Regions from separate parts of the Homo sapiens genome. Here all the other regions are linked to region 1. Evidence: fine-mapped expression QTL. A gene starts in region 1. Each other region holds a variant in brackets. All regions are shown on one strand. Distances are between the middles of the regions. Region 1 holds the start of PPA1 (inorganic pyrophosphatase 1). Region 2 has its middle 19 kb from the start of SAR1A. Region 3 overlaps PPA1 (inorganic pyrophosphatase 1).

Region 1 (5,226 bases):
GCCTAACTATAGCCAAAAAGTAATTTTAAAACTTCTTCAGTATTCTTTAGGAAACCTACTGTCCACATCGCATCCCTTCAAGTTTAAAAATCAAAGTGGAGGCCAGGCACGGTGGCTCACGCCTGTAATCCCAGCACTTTGGAAGGCCAAAGCAGGTGGATCACTGGAGGTAAGGAGTTCAAGACCAGCCTGGCCAACATGGTGAAACCCCGTCTCTACTAAAAATACAAAAATTAGTCAGGCATGGTGGCAAGTGCCTGTAATCCCAGCTACTTGGGAGGCTGAGGCAGGAGAATCACTTGAACCCGGGAGGCTGAAGTTGCAATGAGCCAAGATCATGCCACTGCACTCCAGCCTGGGCAACAGAGCGAGACTTTGTTTCAAAAAACAAACAATAAAACATAAAAGTCCCTTTAGGGCCAATTGTGACTTTGCAGTCTGTCCAGCCCTTTATCAGTTTTAAAGAAATTGACAAATGTAATATTATAAAGCTTAAAAAAGTTTATTTCTATTAAGGAAGGATAAAGCACTTAAAATTGGATAACTATGTAGTGGGTTCTAATTATTAGTATTTCTTAAGTTCCAGAGAGTTCCACTTGATAAAAACAGTTACTTCAGCTAGTGCCAAATTCTAGGAGTAGCTTTGGTCTCCCATAACGGCCACCAAATATTAATTGCAAATAAATAACCTAAGTAAAAGCAGTGTGTTTGTTCTGCATATATAGCTTGAAGATCCACCCCTCACCTTCAAACCAGACAGTCACCTCTGTAAGCCTTTCCTACAGAGAAATTCTGGAGCCAACACTATTTCCAGAAAAACAGTCCCATGAATTATTAGTCAAAAGTTACTGGACTGTCCTTGCTGCTTAATTGCAAAATTAAATAAAATGGAGAGTGGGGGGTAGTTCTCACCCTTCCTGGATTTTACCTGATAGTTAACCTTTGGCTAGATGTGTAAGCTTTACAGTTCGCTTTCCTTTTCCTCCCGCACCAGGCTACTTTTTGTTCCTTCAATGCCTATTCATTCGTCTCCTCTACTCCCCGCTTCCCCTTCCTTCATACACCAACTCAGAGTTCGAGGCACCTGCCCATTTCCTTCCAAATAAAACTGTAAAGAGGTTACAATAGAAGCGCCTGTGGTGACACATTTACGAACGCCTCCGTTATCGCCCATAATCTACTCCTAGTAGCTGGGGGTGGGGGGAGTAAGAGGATAAAGAAAAACCCCAAGTAGCTTTCCTCCACCTACAAGGCCAAAAAAACGTGGTGCCCTAAGGAGCGTGGAGGGCGCCAGCATGCAGCCTCCCGGTTTCCCCGTGCAGCCCTAGGTGCAGGACCCGGGGTAGGTACCCCCTAGACGCCGAATCCTGCAAAGGTAAAAACTTGGCACTTTCTCAGTCTTGTTTCCAGACTGACGTCATCTGTTTGATTTGAGGGAAACAGCTTTCTGTTTCATAAGGAGCATTCCCAGCATCGGCGCTGAGGGAAAACAGGCGGCGCAGAGGCAGGAGCACGACCGGGCCGCGGAGGACCGGTCCAGCGCCTTCACAGACGGCTCCCGATCCGGGCCTCAGTTTTCCCGTCTGTAAAACGAGGGGGTGGACTTGGCTCCGCTCAGCGCCGATAATCTGAGCTACGGCGGCGGAATTAAGGTCTTTAGGAAGTCACTGCCCCCCCCGGCCCGGAGTCGCCTTTTCTCCAAACTGAGCAATCCTCTTACGGGAATTATGTTACTTCCAAGCACCTTTCTAGGGTGGGTCGGTGATTTCCTTTTCCCAACAGACCCTGTCAGAGCCAGACACCTGCAAAACTAGCTGGGCCCAGGTTCGGGTACCCCGAGGCGTGACAAAGGGACCATCTCCGTTCAGCGGGGAGGGATGGCCGGAGGCGACCCTCGCCGCCCCGACCGGCGGCGGCAAGTATGCAATGTGAGGCCGGCCAGGCCCCACAACGCGCCCGAGGAGACGGGCCCGCGTCGGAGACCTGGGGCCGAGCGCGGGCCGCACCCTCCCGGGGAGGCAAGGCCCGGGAATGAATGGGCGGACGGGCGCGGAGGGGCCACGGGCCGCAGACACTCACTGAGGAAGACTCGGTACTCCAGGGAGAAGGGCGCGGCGCGCTCCTCGGTGCTGAAGCCGCTCATAGTGCCGGAGTCCTGCCGCCGCCGCTGCCACAGAGCCACCAGCCCGCACGCGGCGCCGACTGACAAGGAGAGAGCCCCACGCCTGCGCACTGCGAGCACTGGACCGGCGGGCGGGGCGGGGAGCGCCTTTAACGCGGCTCTGCTAGTGTTCCCACCCCCGCCGGGCCAACCCCGTGCGCAGGCGCACTCCGCCAGGCCCGGGTGTCCGCACTCCCCAGCCCCGCCCCTCGGGCCCAGCCTCCGCGATGGCAGCTAGGGCTCAGAGGCTGGGCCACGTGGCTGCCGCCGGCGCTGGTTCTGTTCCTTCGGCTTTGGGCTCTGACCCGGGAGGGCAAATGCGCAGGCTCTAAGCTTGGACTAGCTAGGAGTTGACCGCCGACCACGCACACAGGGAACTCACCTTTGATTCTCACACACTCCTCCCCGCAGTCCTATTCCTTATCTCAAAAGGCGTTGATAAGTCACCTGCTTCCCCAGACAGGCTCTGCTTGCGGTCTTAAAGGTGAGCATTTTTCTGATCCGTCGTAACAAAGTTGAGCCATATTACTGACACCCCTAGTGGCTACTAGTAAGGTACTCGCTTCTCCACTTTCTATAATCTCTCTCACTCCGTTGCTTATCTGGGAAGTGAAGATAATAATATAACTATTTCATGAGTTACTGGGATGATTACCCGAGTTAATACACGTCAAATGCCTGAAGCAGAGCCTGTATCTTTGTAAACAATCTGGAAGTTGTTACTGTCACCCTCCCCAGTGGGGGAGGATTTACGCCCCCGCGCCCCCCGCCCCCTCCATCCCCCCTGCCACCCTACTTAACCCACCTGGGTCTCCAGGGGCTTCAGATGGAAGCACTGGGAAGGTCCAGGCGTGAGCTAGAGTCCCGTGAAGGAGTGTTCTCAGGGACAGGCTCTTCTGATCTTGATTTCCTGTTTATATTCCATCATATCAGGCCAGACCCCAAAAACTAAAGTCTGATTGAGGCAGTGGGAAAATATTTGCATCACTTACCTCCCCAGGAATACATGTAAAAGAAAAAAAGTATATCCACAATCCTAAATATAAATTAGCAAATTATTATTCACATTTCAAAGAATGCCTGGTTTTATTTATTTATTTATTTTAATTTCATGGCCAGGATTTCTTTAAATAACTTTTTCTAGAACATTAAAGATAATGTGCCTTAATGACATTTTGAATTAAACCCTTTTTTCCAAACAATGTCTATTGTAAAAAATGAATATTAAATGAAAACCTAGTAAGATCTCCAGTTAGTTATGGTGTCGCTCCCTTTGTCTCCATCCAACTCCCAAACCTCACTGACACCCATTAATTTTCAGAAGGCTGTGATTCACTGATTTTTTGAACATTTCACCACACTGTTTTACTGCTGTTAAAACAGAAGGGCAGGAAAAAAAATTAGCGAAGCAATAGTTTAGTCAATAATTAGGGTCAAGGCCAGGCGCGGTGACTTACGCCTTCAATCCCAGCACTTTGGGAGGCCGAGGTGGGCGGATTACCCGACGTCAGGAGTTGGAAACCAGCCTGGCCAACACAGTGAAACCCTGTCCCTAGTAAAAATACAAAAATTAGCTGGGCGTGGTTGCACGCGCCTGTAATCCCAGCTACTCGGGAGACTGAGGCAGGAGAACACTTGATCCCGAGAGGCGGAGGTTGCGGTGAGTTGAGATCACGCCAGTGCATTCCAGCCTGGGTGACAGAGCGAGACTCTGTTTCAGAAAAAAAAGTAGGATCAAGTTCAAAGAATATTTTAAGGGGATGCTCTTTTGATTGAACTGCTCTATCACTTTTCTGCCTTTGAGCAGATGGAACCAATTTTCTTGGAAAAACCCAGACTCTCATCTGTGACTGACTTAAGAAGACAGCAGTGATGCAATAATAATGTTCTACATACACTTTCCCTTTGCCTCCTGCCAGCTCAGAGCAAGATAATAAAGTCTCACTGACCTCCAGACTTGCACACTGGCTCTTGTTTCATCGAATGTATTCAGAGAGCCAGTCATTATCAGGTCTGGTAAAACACCCAGCCCTGGTGAATTGTAACTTTCCTTTGCAGGCAAGTGTAGTGAGCCCATAGGCCCAAAAGGACCTTGGTCTACCATGTCTCCCTAGGGCCTAGCACAGTACACAGCCTAGAGTAGATGTTTAGTGAATCTTTGCTGGACGGATAGGTAGAGGAATTAATGTAAAGGTGGAAAATACCTTCTTAAGTACATTAGTTTGACAAAGAAGGAGTCCATCTCTTCTCAAATATTATCTTTCTCACTCAGTGACCAAATCTAGTGGCACTTTTCAGTCCATATCCTGTCCCCTTTGCTGTGGGTGACCCTGTTGGGTGTCTCTAATTTCCTTCTTTGGCTTGCGACTACATTCTCTTCTTTTTTTTTTTTTTCTTTTTTGAGACAGAGTCTCACTCTGTCACCCAGGCTGGAGTACAGTGGTGTGATTTCGGCTCACTGCAACCTCCACCTCCCAGGTTCAAGTGATTCTTGTACCTCAGCCTCCTGAGTAGCTGGGATCACAGGCATGCACCACCATGCCTGGCTAATTTTAGTATTTTTAGTAGAGATGTGTTTTCATCATGTTGGCCAGGCTAGCCTCGAACTCCTGGCCTCAAATGATCTGCCCACCTCAGCCTCCCAGAGTGTTGGGATTACAGGCGTGAGACACGGTGCCAGGCCACGACTACATTCTCTTCTCGTGTTCTTCCTACTTCTTTTTTTTTTTTTTTTGAGATGGGGTCTCGCTCTGTCGCCCAGGCTGGAGTGCGGTGGTGCGATCTCGGCTCACTGCAACCTCCGCCTCTCGGGTTCAAGCAATTCTCCCGCCTCAGCCTCCAGAGTAGCTGGGATTACAGGCGCCTGCCACCACGCCCAGCTAATTTTTTGTACCTTTAGTAGAGACCGGGTTTCACCATGTTGGCCAAACTGGTCTCGAAGCCCTGACCTCGTGATCTGCCTGCCTCGGCCTCCCAAAGTGCTGGGATTACAGGCATGAGCCACCACGCCCGGCCCATTCCTACTTCTTTGCTACTCATTTCTCATTCTCCTTCTCAGCCTTCAT
Region 2 (5,224 bases), 44 kb before region 1:
ACGTTCTCTTATTGCAGCATTATTTAAAATCAGAAGAAATTGGAAATAAACCAAAAGGTGAATCACTAGAGACTGAATACATGAACTGTTATCTTCATTACATAATTAATTGAGTCATTTTGTATAGTATTGAATAGCTTTATAAATGAAGAAGAGTTCACATTTAAGTTAAAATAAAAGGTTACAAAGGTGTAAATCAATTTCCCCATTTTTTAATTTTATTTTATTGTTTTATTTTATTGTATTTTATTTTGAGACGGAGTCTCACTCTGTCGCCCAGGCTGGAGTGCAGTGGCGCTATCTTGGCTCACTGCAAGCTCCACCTCCCGGGTTCATGCCATTCTCCTGCCTCAGCCTCCCGAGTAGCTGGGACTACAGGCGCCCGGCACCACGCCCGGCTAATTTTTTGTATTTTTAGTAGAGATGGGGTTTCACCGTGTTAGCCAGGATGGTCTCGATCTCCTGACCTCGTGATCTGCCCGCCTCAGCCTCTCAAAGTGCTGGGATTACAGGTGTGAGCCACCGCATCTGGCCGGCTATTTTTTTTTCTTTTTTTTTTTTTTATTATACTTTAAGTTTTAGGGTACATGTGCACAACGTGCAGGTTTGTTACATATGTATACATGTGCCATGTTGGTGTGCTGCACCCACTAACTCGTTATTTAACATTAGGTATATCTCCTAATGCTATCCCTCTCCCCATCCCCCCACCCCACAACAGGCCCCGGTGTGTGATGTTCCCCTTCCTGTGTCCATGTGTTCTCACTGTTCAATTCCCACCTATGAGTGAGAACATGCGGTGTTTGGTTTTTTGTCCTTGCGATAGTTTGCTGAGAATGCTGGTTTCCAGCTTCATCCATGTCCCTACAAAGGACATGAACTCATCATTTTTTATGGCTGCATAATATTCCATGGTACATATGTGCCATATTTTTATTTTATTTGAGACACAGTCTTGCTCTGTCGCCCAGGCTGGAATGCAGTGGTGTGATCTCGGCTCACTGCAACCTCAGCCTCCCGAGTAGCTGGGATTACAGGTGCATACTACCACGTCTGGCTCATTTTTGTATTTTTAGTAGAGACGGGGTTTCACCATGTTGGTCAGGTTAGTCTAGAACTCCTGACCTCAAGTGATCCGCCTGCCTCAGCCTCCCACAATTGCTGGGATTACAGGCGTGAGTCACTGTGCCTGGCCTGTTTTAGAAATATACATATATATACACACACAAAGACATGTGTCTCTATCTACAATTGATTCTTGCTATTTGCAATAGTTATGTTCTATAAAGTCACCCCAAACATTGAGTCTGCTTCCCTCTGCTGTTCCTTAGGAAAGAGAATTTGTTCAAAAAGAAGGGAGCCCAATTCTGCATACACTTTCCCCCTCAAATTCTTCCAGCAGATTTCTTTGTGGTTCCTACTGGCAGAGATTGCAGCCAGGCATGGTGGCTCAAGCCTGTAATCCCAGCACTTTGGAATGCCAAGGCAGGAAGATCCCTTGAGCCCAGGAGTTTGAGACCACCCTGAGCAATACAGACAGACCCCATCTCTACAAAAAATAAATGAATGAATTAGCCAGGCATGGTCGTGCATGCCTGTGGTCCAAGCTATGCAGGAGGCTGAAGTGGGAGGATCACTTGAGCATGGGAGGCTGAGGCTACAGTGAGCCATGATCACTCCACTGCACCCCAGCCTGGGTGATAGACCAAGACTGACTCAAAAAAAAAAAAAAAAAAAAAAAAACGCTACAGAAAGTAGAACAAGTCCTCGGGCACCCTCAGGGTCCTAGTCTGTAATTCTAGCACTTTGGGAGGCCAAGGTGGGCAGATCACCTGAAGTCAGGAGTTCGAGACCAGCCTGGCCAACATGGCGAAACCCCATCTCTACTAAAAATACAAAAAATTAGCCGGGCATGGTGGCACATGCCTGTAATCCCAGCTACTTGGGAGGTAGAGGCAGGAGAATCACTTGAAACCAGGAGGTGGAAGTTGCACTGAGCCGAGATTGCACCATTGCACTCCAGCCTGGGTGACAGAGCGAGACTCCATCTCAAAAAAAAAAAAGAGATTGCACACCTGTGACTGAGCACTAGACTAGGACCCTGAGGGTGCCCGAGGACTTGTTCTACTTTCTGTAATAATGACCTTAACTTTCTAACCCTGCACACTATCCCCATGGCAGGAACTGTGGAGTTAAAGCTACAGCAGGACACAGCATGACATTGTGAGGTCCCACCTTCCCCTGTCACATCCTCTGACAGAAGCTATGAACACATCCTGACATGGTGAAGGGTCATGACCAGTCTCTGTGGTCTGCAATTTCAGAATCATGCAAATATGGCTTTGAACTTTAATATCAGTTTCCCAATCACCCACCTTGTCCAGTTCAGTGGTAGAGAGGGTTTTTTTTCCCCCACTGCATCCTGCCCCACTGGACTATATCAAAATCGTGGGGATGTGACATCTTCCACATTAAAACATATGCACAAGGT[G/A]GGAGCCCACTACCTTGTTATCCAGAATAAGGAAACCGAGTCCCAGAGAAGTGAAAAGACCTGCCTGATGTCACAAAGGAGCCAGGGCCAGCATGTAGATCTTAGGACTTCCAGCACAGAGTTCTTCCCCAGAGTGTTCTCAACTTTAACTCCAGGAGTCTAGTGGCACAGTCATGACATGGAAGCCACCAATAGCAACTTGCCCTGAAATAGCACATTTTTCCTTCAAAATTCATGGAAAACTGGCATTTAAAATTGTAGCCTATGGCCAGGCACAGTGGCTCACGCCTGTAATCCCAGCATTTTAGAAGGCCAAGGCAGGTGGATCACCTGAGGTCAGGAGTTGGAGACCAGCCTGGCCAGCATAGTGAAACCCCATCTCTACCAAAAATACAAAAAGGTAGCCAGGCATGGTGGCAGGCACCTGTAGTCCCAGCTACTTGGGAGGCTGAGGCAGGAGAATTGCTTGAACTTGGGAGGCAGAGGTTGCAGTGAGTGGAGATCATGCCACTGCACTCCAGCCTGGGCAACAGAGCGAGACTCCATCTGAAAAAAATATTTTTTAATTTTTTTAAATAATAAAATTGTAGCCTATGAAGAACCTTGTCATTATTCACTCCCCAGTAAAATGGAAGCCCCAGGGCTTTGCATGGTGTCTACCCTGTGGCTTCAGTCTCCTTTGGCACACACTCTGTGTCCCTGTGGGGTGTAGAAATCCCAGTGTGGAAAGCCATGCACAGTGCCACGTGAAATGCCCACGCAGAACCTCTCTGTGGAATCAGGCAGTCACTAGGCTGCTGACTTTGTCACCTTGAGGAGCACAAAAAGGCAGTCCTGTTTGAAAAGCCATTCGAGAAGCAATCAGAAGGTTATTAACAGAGTTCCTGCTATGGGCAGTGCGGGACGTCAGGGGCATAAACATGACTGTGACATGGCCCCTGCTTGTGAGGAGCTGGCAGACTAGTCAGGGATATAAGTTCTGAAGTCACGATCCACTTTCATGAGGAGAGACAGAGAAGCAAGGAAATAGACTTGAATGTGCAGGAACGGGGCACAGCACCTCTGCCTGTCTCAACAGGGAAGGACAGGAGGACAGGCCCTAGGAAGAGGGCTCCGGTGCGTGGGGGCAGTGACAAGGAGCCACATGTCACATTTGAACATCCGCACTACGGTGACAAGTCTGCTTTAAGCCAGAGGAATGTTGGAGCTGGAACAGGCCTTCCAGAGTACTTGGGTCAACCTCTTCTTTTGCAGGTGTGGAACTCATGTGCTGAAGGTGATCCAGCTATTAAACCAGCATCACATGGCTTGCTGGGTGAACAACACAAAGAAGAAGAAGACTAACTCATCTCTGTGCAAGTGCCATGGGGCTAGGATCTGCATTTCCAGCCCCTAGCCTTGTGACAGACCCAAATAAGGAGCTCAGAGACCTCGGGTCACCACGCAACCTTCCCGGAGCCAAGTTCATCATAGTAACACTCAGCTCAGGGTTGCTAAGTGAATTCGACAGGTCCAAGTGGGTAAAGCCTATAGCACAGGGCCTGCATTTAGGAAGTGCTCATAATTGGGAGCTATTATTGTTGTTGCTTTTGCTGTGAGTAGATGTTTGCTGGATGATCTCACACTGATTATATTAAACCCCACTGAGAAATCTTTTGCTGATCTCTGGCATTTATTACAAGAGCAGCGGTTTCAAACATCAGAGTCCTGGTTGAAAAGTGGATTTTAGGCTGGGTGCAGTGGCTCATGCCTGTAATCCCAGAACTTTGGGAGCCTGAGGCGGGAGGATCACTTAAGGTCAGTAGTTTAAGACCAGCCTGGCCAACATGGTGAAACCCCATCTCTACTAAAAATACAAAAAATTAGCCAGGCGTGGTGGCGTGCGCATGTAGGCTCAGCTACTTGGGAGCCTGAGGTGGGAGAATCACTTGAACCTGGGAGGTGGAGGTTGCAGTGAGCTGATATCATGCCATTGCACTCCAGCCTGGGCGACAGAGTGAGATTGTCTAAAAAAAAAAGTGGATTTTAGGGCCCAGCACCTCCCAATTCTGATTCATTCGGCTTTTTTTTTTTTTTTAAACAGATAGCTCTGGTAGTTCAGGGACCACTTGGAGAAAGTCTGCCTTAGAGAGCTGGCAGCATTTATATCACTGGGTGTGCTGAACACCATTCATCAGTGTTCTCCTCCTACTTCATTGATTTTTTTTTTTAATAAAATAAGGCATACTGCATATGCTTTTAGAAAAATAATTCCAAGAGTACAGAAGCTTTTAAAGAAGAAGGAAACTCTCTGACCTTATCTATTCCTTGCTTACTCCACAGTTCCACTCCCCAGAGGTAATCATTGTTACTGTGGTTTTAGATTTCTTAACTGTGGTTTGGATTTGGATTTTCATTGTCTATGCTTATAGAAGCATATCTATTGATATACGTCTTTCCTCCAAATGCTCCCTTTGTAAAAAACACAAATAGGATCATATGATAGAGCAGGGATTGGAAAATGTTTTCTGTAAACAGACAAACAGTAAATACTTTTGGCTTTTGGGGCCATATGGTCACTGTCCTAACTACTGAACACTCCACTGTAGACGGAAGGCAGCCACAGACAATTTGCAAATGAAAAGATGTTGGCTATGTTCCAATAAAATTTTATTTACAAAACAGGCAGCAGGCTGGATTTGGCCCACAAGTCATAGTTTACCACTATAGAGTACTACAATTTTCTCTCCTCAC
Region 3 (5,226 bases), 23 kb before region 1:
GTCTCAGAAAACAACAACAACAAAGAAATACACCATCAAAATGAAAAATGAATCATCTTTGCTGACCTGTTATTTAACATACATTAAGACCATTTTCATAGAAATCGTAAGATACGAAAAAATAGAGAAGTTAACTTAAAAGCCAAATCTTTTTCCTTTTTTTTTTCTTTTGAGACAGGGTCTTGCTCAGGTGCCCCAGTTGGAGTGCAGTGGGGCAATCACAGCTCACTGCAGCCTTGATCTCCAAGGCTCAAGTGATCTTCCCACCTCAGCCTTGCTACAGGCAAGCGCCACCATGCCTGGCTAATTTTTTTTTAATTTTTAGTAGAGATGAGGTCTCACTATGTTGCCCCCACCAGTCTCCAATTCCTGAGTTCAAGTGATCCTCCTGCCTCAGCCTCCTAAAGTGCTGGAATTACAGGAATGAGCCATATAGCACCCAGACAAATGCCAACTCTTAGGACTGTACATTTTTACACATATAACTCTTCTCCATTTTTCTTCTGTTTGTTGGAAGGACAATGTTTTCATTTTATAGGACATTATCCTGACACAGAATAGAAGATTTCTGGGAGAATTATTTTTGTACATTGGCTGTTTCTCGTACTCTTTTTTTTTTTTTTTTGAGACCGAGTCTCGCTCTGTCGCCCAGGCTGGAGTACAGTGGTACGATCACGGCTCACTGCAGCTTCAACCTCCCCAGGCTCAGGTGATCCTCCCAACTCAGCCTCCCAGGTAGCTAGGACTACAGGTATGTACCACCATGCCCAGCTAATTTTTGTACTTTTTGTAGAGACAGGGTTTTTCCATGTTGTCCAGGCTGGTCTTCAACTCCTGGGCTCAAGCAATCCATCCACCTTGGCTTCCCAAAGTGCTGGAATGACAGGTGTGAGCCACCGCACCCAGCCTTGTATCTCTTTTCTAAGTGAAAGTAACAGTACAGTGTCTTATGATTATTAAAACCTTTTCTGCAAGCTGGTCTGCTTTGTGTGTTAAACATGCAAAGTGTTTACACTTACCAACTGATTCCTTTTCCATTCGTTTTCTTAGTCACTAATGCTTTCCAATGGTCATGAGTGCTTTTAATAATATCAATGGCAAAGTCCTATAATTTGAAGAGGTTTGCATTACAATGATAAAAAGGTATTATTTTCCTATTATCAACATTTCCCCAAAGCCTGATACTTTGTCTCTTCTGAATCATTTCCTTATTCTAAAAATGGAAGAGAATATTAAAGTGAATAAATAAACACCAAGACTGTGTTATGTTTCCAGACTTCTGTTTTGTGAATCTTTAGATGGTAACAATATGGTTAAATTATGAGTCTCAATACAAATGAGCCTAAAGCTACAGTTCTGAATGACATATTACCTTATCTTTAAATTCTGCATTAAACGCAAACTCATTTTCTGGTTTTCCATCAGGAACCTTATACCTTCTAAACCAGTCCACAGTAGCTTCTAAGTAGCCAGGTTTCAGCCGTTTGACATCATTGATATCTAAGAAGAGAAGAAGCATAAGATGACAGTGAGAATGATTTTTTTAAAAAGAAAGAAGAGAATAAGCAGATTTCAAGATGCACAAATAATTATACACTCAACAAAAATTCCAAGTACTTATTTTGAAAGAGCTGTGGAATGACTTATCACGGAAGTTCAAGATAACATTGGAGCGAAGCCCCTTGTTGAGAAGAGAAGCCATACACATATACATTGAAAGAAAATCATCTAGTATCTCTGAATAGCTCTGACACTAAGTACAGAGAACAATCAGTACAATAGTAATCTCTGTTAGGTAAGGGCAAACAGCTGGTGGCTACATAATGAAACAACCAGTTTGGCAAATGTAGATAATTCCTATGAGAAGTGTACAAGATACTGAAAAAGACAGAGGTTATCTTTTTTTTTTTTTCAGAGACAAGGTCTCGCTCTGTCACCCACGCTGGAATGCAGTGGCCCGAACAAGGCTCACTGCAGCCTTGACCTCCACAGTTCAGCGATCCTCTCACCTCAGCCTCCTGAGTAGCTGGGACTATAAGCATGCACACGCCCAGCTAATTTTTAAATTTTTTGTAGAAATGGGGTCTCGTCATGTTGCCCAGGCTGGTCTCAAACTCCTGGGCTCAAGCAATCCTCCTGCCTTGGCTTCCCAAAGCACTGGGATTACAGGCTTGAGGTACTATCCCTGGTCCAGAGGCAGAGGCTATGTCAGAGGATCACAACACTATTACATACTAAAAGATAAGAAAAATAGATTAGATTGATATCCATTGATGGGTTACGTATTAAATGTGACTAGACTTTGCTGGATAGTACAGGCACTGTACATAACAATACTTTAGTTCTGGCTGACAGAAAAGTGCACTGCTTTAAAAATTTTAAGTTTCTGTATAGCCATCAACAATGGCTAGCCTCAATGTTATCAAACTGCACTTCAAATAACAAACTCCTGCTCAATGCAAGCAAACAGAGATACACATCCTAAAAAGTCAGTTAGGAAAAGTATTATGAGGAAGAGAAATACATTCAACAATAACAAAAGCTTATTTATATTTGTATAAGATAACATTGCTTCACTCCAATTTATTTTTTTTTTTTGAGAAGGAGTCTCGCTCTGTCTCCCAGGCTGGAGTGCAGTGGCGCAATCTCGGCTCACTGCAAGCTCTGCCTCCCGGGTTCACGCCATTCTCCTGCCTCAGCCTCCTGAGTAACTGGGACTACAGGTGCCCACCACCATGCCTGGCTAATTTTTTTGTATTTTTAGTAGAGATGGGGTTTCGTGTTAGCTAGGACGGTCTCGATCTCCTGACCTCATGATTCGCCTGCCTCGGCCTCCCAAAGTGCTGGGATTACAGG[C/T]GTGAGCCACCGCGCCCGGCCGCTTCAATCCAATTTATAATCTGCATAAAGAATAGCATGCATTCTATTATCATAATATCACTAAAAGTATGGAAACTTTACAGAATGCACTGGGAAATGTTTAAGCACTAGTAAATTTCAAAGAACTTATAATTTACATGAAATGTGTCACCTGATATAGAAATAATTTGGAAATCCAGAAATCCAACATGCAAATGTTGATGTTTTCCAATAACAGAAACTAATTCTCCAATTATTCAGACACCAACTGAGTGCTCAGTAATTCACTGTGATTCTGATACTATCTACCTGGAGTTAGCATCAGATCTCAAAGGTTAGGGGCTCAGTCTCACAAGACTGCCCCACTTCAGATGCCTCCTGTACTTTTGACTATCAGCTATAAATTAGGGGTTTCTACAATCCTCTCCCCAGGTCCCCTAATTTGCTAAAATGGTTCACAGAACTCAGGAAAACACTGAAGTTTAAATTTCGTTATATAAATACAACTCAGGGACAGCAAATGGAAGAGATGCACAGGGGCAAGCTATAGGATGGACAATAGACACTGCCTTAGGTTGACATTAGGGAAAGCTGCATACTACTTGCGCCATGGGACCAGCCACCCCGAGAAAGTTTTCAGGGTTCTAATAACCTGAACTGCAGGAAAATAAAGCCTTAGTAAATGAGTGCTGACAGAGTGATGGGCTTGGCTTCACTAATTGTGGCCACAGCATGCCAAGTTCTCTTGCATAAGAAGCACGTTGGAAATGCACACACGGACCAACAGAACAGAGCCGTACTACCAAGTAGTGAACAGATGGTGTGAATGCACTCTCACCTTTCAAAATTGAAACGAAACATTAAAGGATTGGCATTCTTCCAGTCCTTCTTCAATGAATTAACACAGATGCAAATATACATCACATCATTTTGAGGGAACATGCTCTCAAGGTGACTCTTATCACTGCTGACATTGACCTCCATCACCTGGCTGAGGCAGTGTTTGTCAAGTTTCTCTGCTCTAAAGTCATCCTCTCCTCTCCCTTACCCACACTGTACTCTTTGGAAGGAAGTCACCAGGCACAACTCACAATTAAGGACCTCCTTGAGAATGGAGTATCTGCATAAATTATTTGGAATTCTTCTGCTTTGAGATTTGTCTATTCTTCCTCATTTGTCTATTTATTCAATCATTTATTTGTCAGTATAGACTCATGGAGATTTATTTTATGTTCCAGGTTATATTACAATACTACTTTATTTTCTTGCTCAAAGTGTTCTAGCTTTGGCAACTCCTATGTATGTACCCAATAATAAAAACATAAGTCCACACAAAAACTTGTACAGGAATGTTCATGGCAGCATTACACAGCCAAAACAACCCAAATGTCCATCAACTGATGAATGGATAAACAAAATGTAGTATATCCACACAATGGAATAATATTCAACCATAAAAAGGAGTACTGACAGATGCCACAATATGCAATATGGATAAACCTAGAAAACATTATACTAAGTGAAAGAAACCAGAAACAGCAACAACAAAGATCCATATATTGTACCAGTCCATGTATATGAGATACCTAGAATAGGTAGAATAGGCAAAGCTATAAAGACAAAAAGCAGATTAGTGGCTGCCAGGGCCTGGAGAGGAGGAGGGAATAGGGAATGACTTGAACTAGTGGTGATGGCTGCACAACCTTGTGAATGAATGAAATGCCACTGAATTTCACACTTTAATTAAAATGGTGAATTTTATGTTATGTAAAATTTACCACCAAAAAAAAAAAAAAAGGGAATGAAGTGCTGATACATACTACAATACGGATGAATCCTGAAGACACTTACTTCGCTAAGTGAAATAAACCAGACACAGAGGCCACCTATATGATGCCATTTACATGAAATAACAGCATAGGCAAATCCATAGGCACAAAGTAGATCTGCAGTCATCAGGGACTGAGGGAAGGGGGACAGGGAGTGATTGCCCATGGATACAGGATTTCCTCTGGGCTGATGAAATGTTCTGCAATTAGAGAGTGGTGATGGTTGTACAACTTAGTGAATATACTAAAAACCACTGAATTGTACATTTTACAATGGTGACTCTTTGATATGTGAATATCTCAATTAAATGTTTTAAAATAAATAAACATACCAACTGAGTGCTGGTATGTGGGGAAGGAAAGGACCAAAAAAACAGTAAGAACCTACCAGATTTTTTCTTTCCTGGAATGAAGGAGAAAGTTTACTTAGTTAATTACAAGTGCAGTCATAGAAATAATGCTTGTCCAGTGCTTTGTTCCTCCATCCTTTAACAGTTTGAAGGTAAGGGCTTACAATTCTGTCATTATAGGTTAAGTATGG

The links. PIP is the estimated chance that this variant, and not a neighbour inherited with it, causes the effect.
Region 2: its variant is the best candidate, but not a certain one, in a credible set for the expression of PPA1 in aorta (GTEx, PIP 0.53).
Region 3: its variant is the best candidate, but not a certain one, in a credible set for the expression of PPA1 in whole blood (INTERVAL, PIP 0.85).

Annotation. Positions count from the first base shown.
Region 1 is chr10:70,231,185-70,236,410 of GRCh38, forward strand. It overlaps PPA1 (inorganic pyrophosphatase 1), which reads right to left and starts at 2,245. Exons shown (of 11, transcript NM_021129.4): 1 at 2,080-2,245. The coding sequence starts at 2,143. RefSeq lists a silencer at 1,887-2,456.
Region 2 is chr10:70,186,723-70,191,946 of GRCh38, forward strand. No RefSeq gene overlaps it. Among named protein-coding and RNA genes, the nearest start is that of SAR1A, 19 kb to the left of the region's middle. The variant G/A (reference allele first, on the strand shown) is at 2,492.
Region 3 is chr10:70,208,186-70,213,411 of GRCh38, forward strand. It overlaps PPA1 (inorganic pyrophosphatase 1), which reads right to left. Exons shown (of 11, transcript NM_021129.4): 7 at 1,373-1,500; 8 at 1,020-1,105. Among named protein-coding and RNA genes, the nearest start is that of PPA1, 23 kb to the right of the region's middle. The variant C/T (reference allele first, on the strand shown) is at 2,857.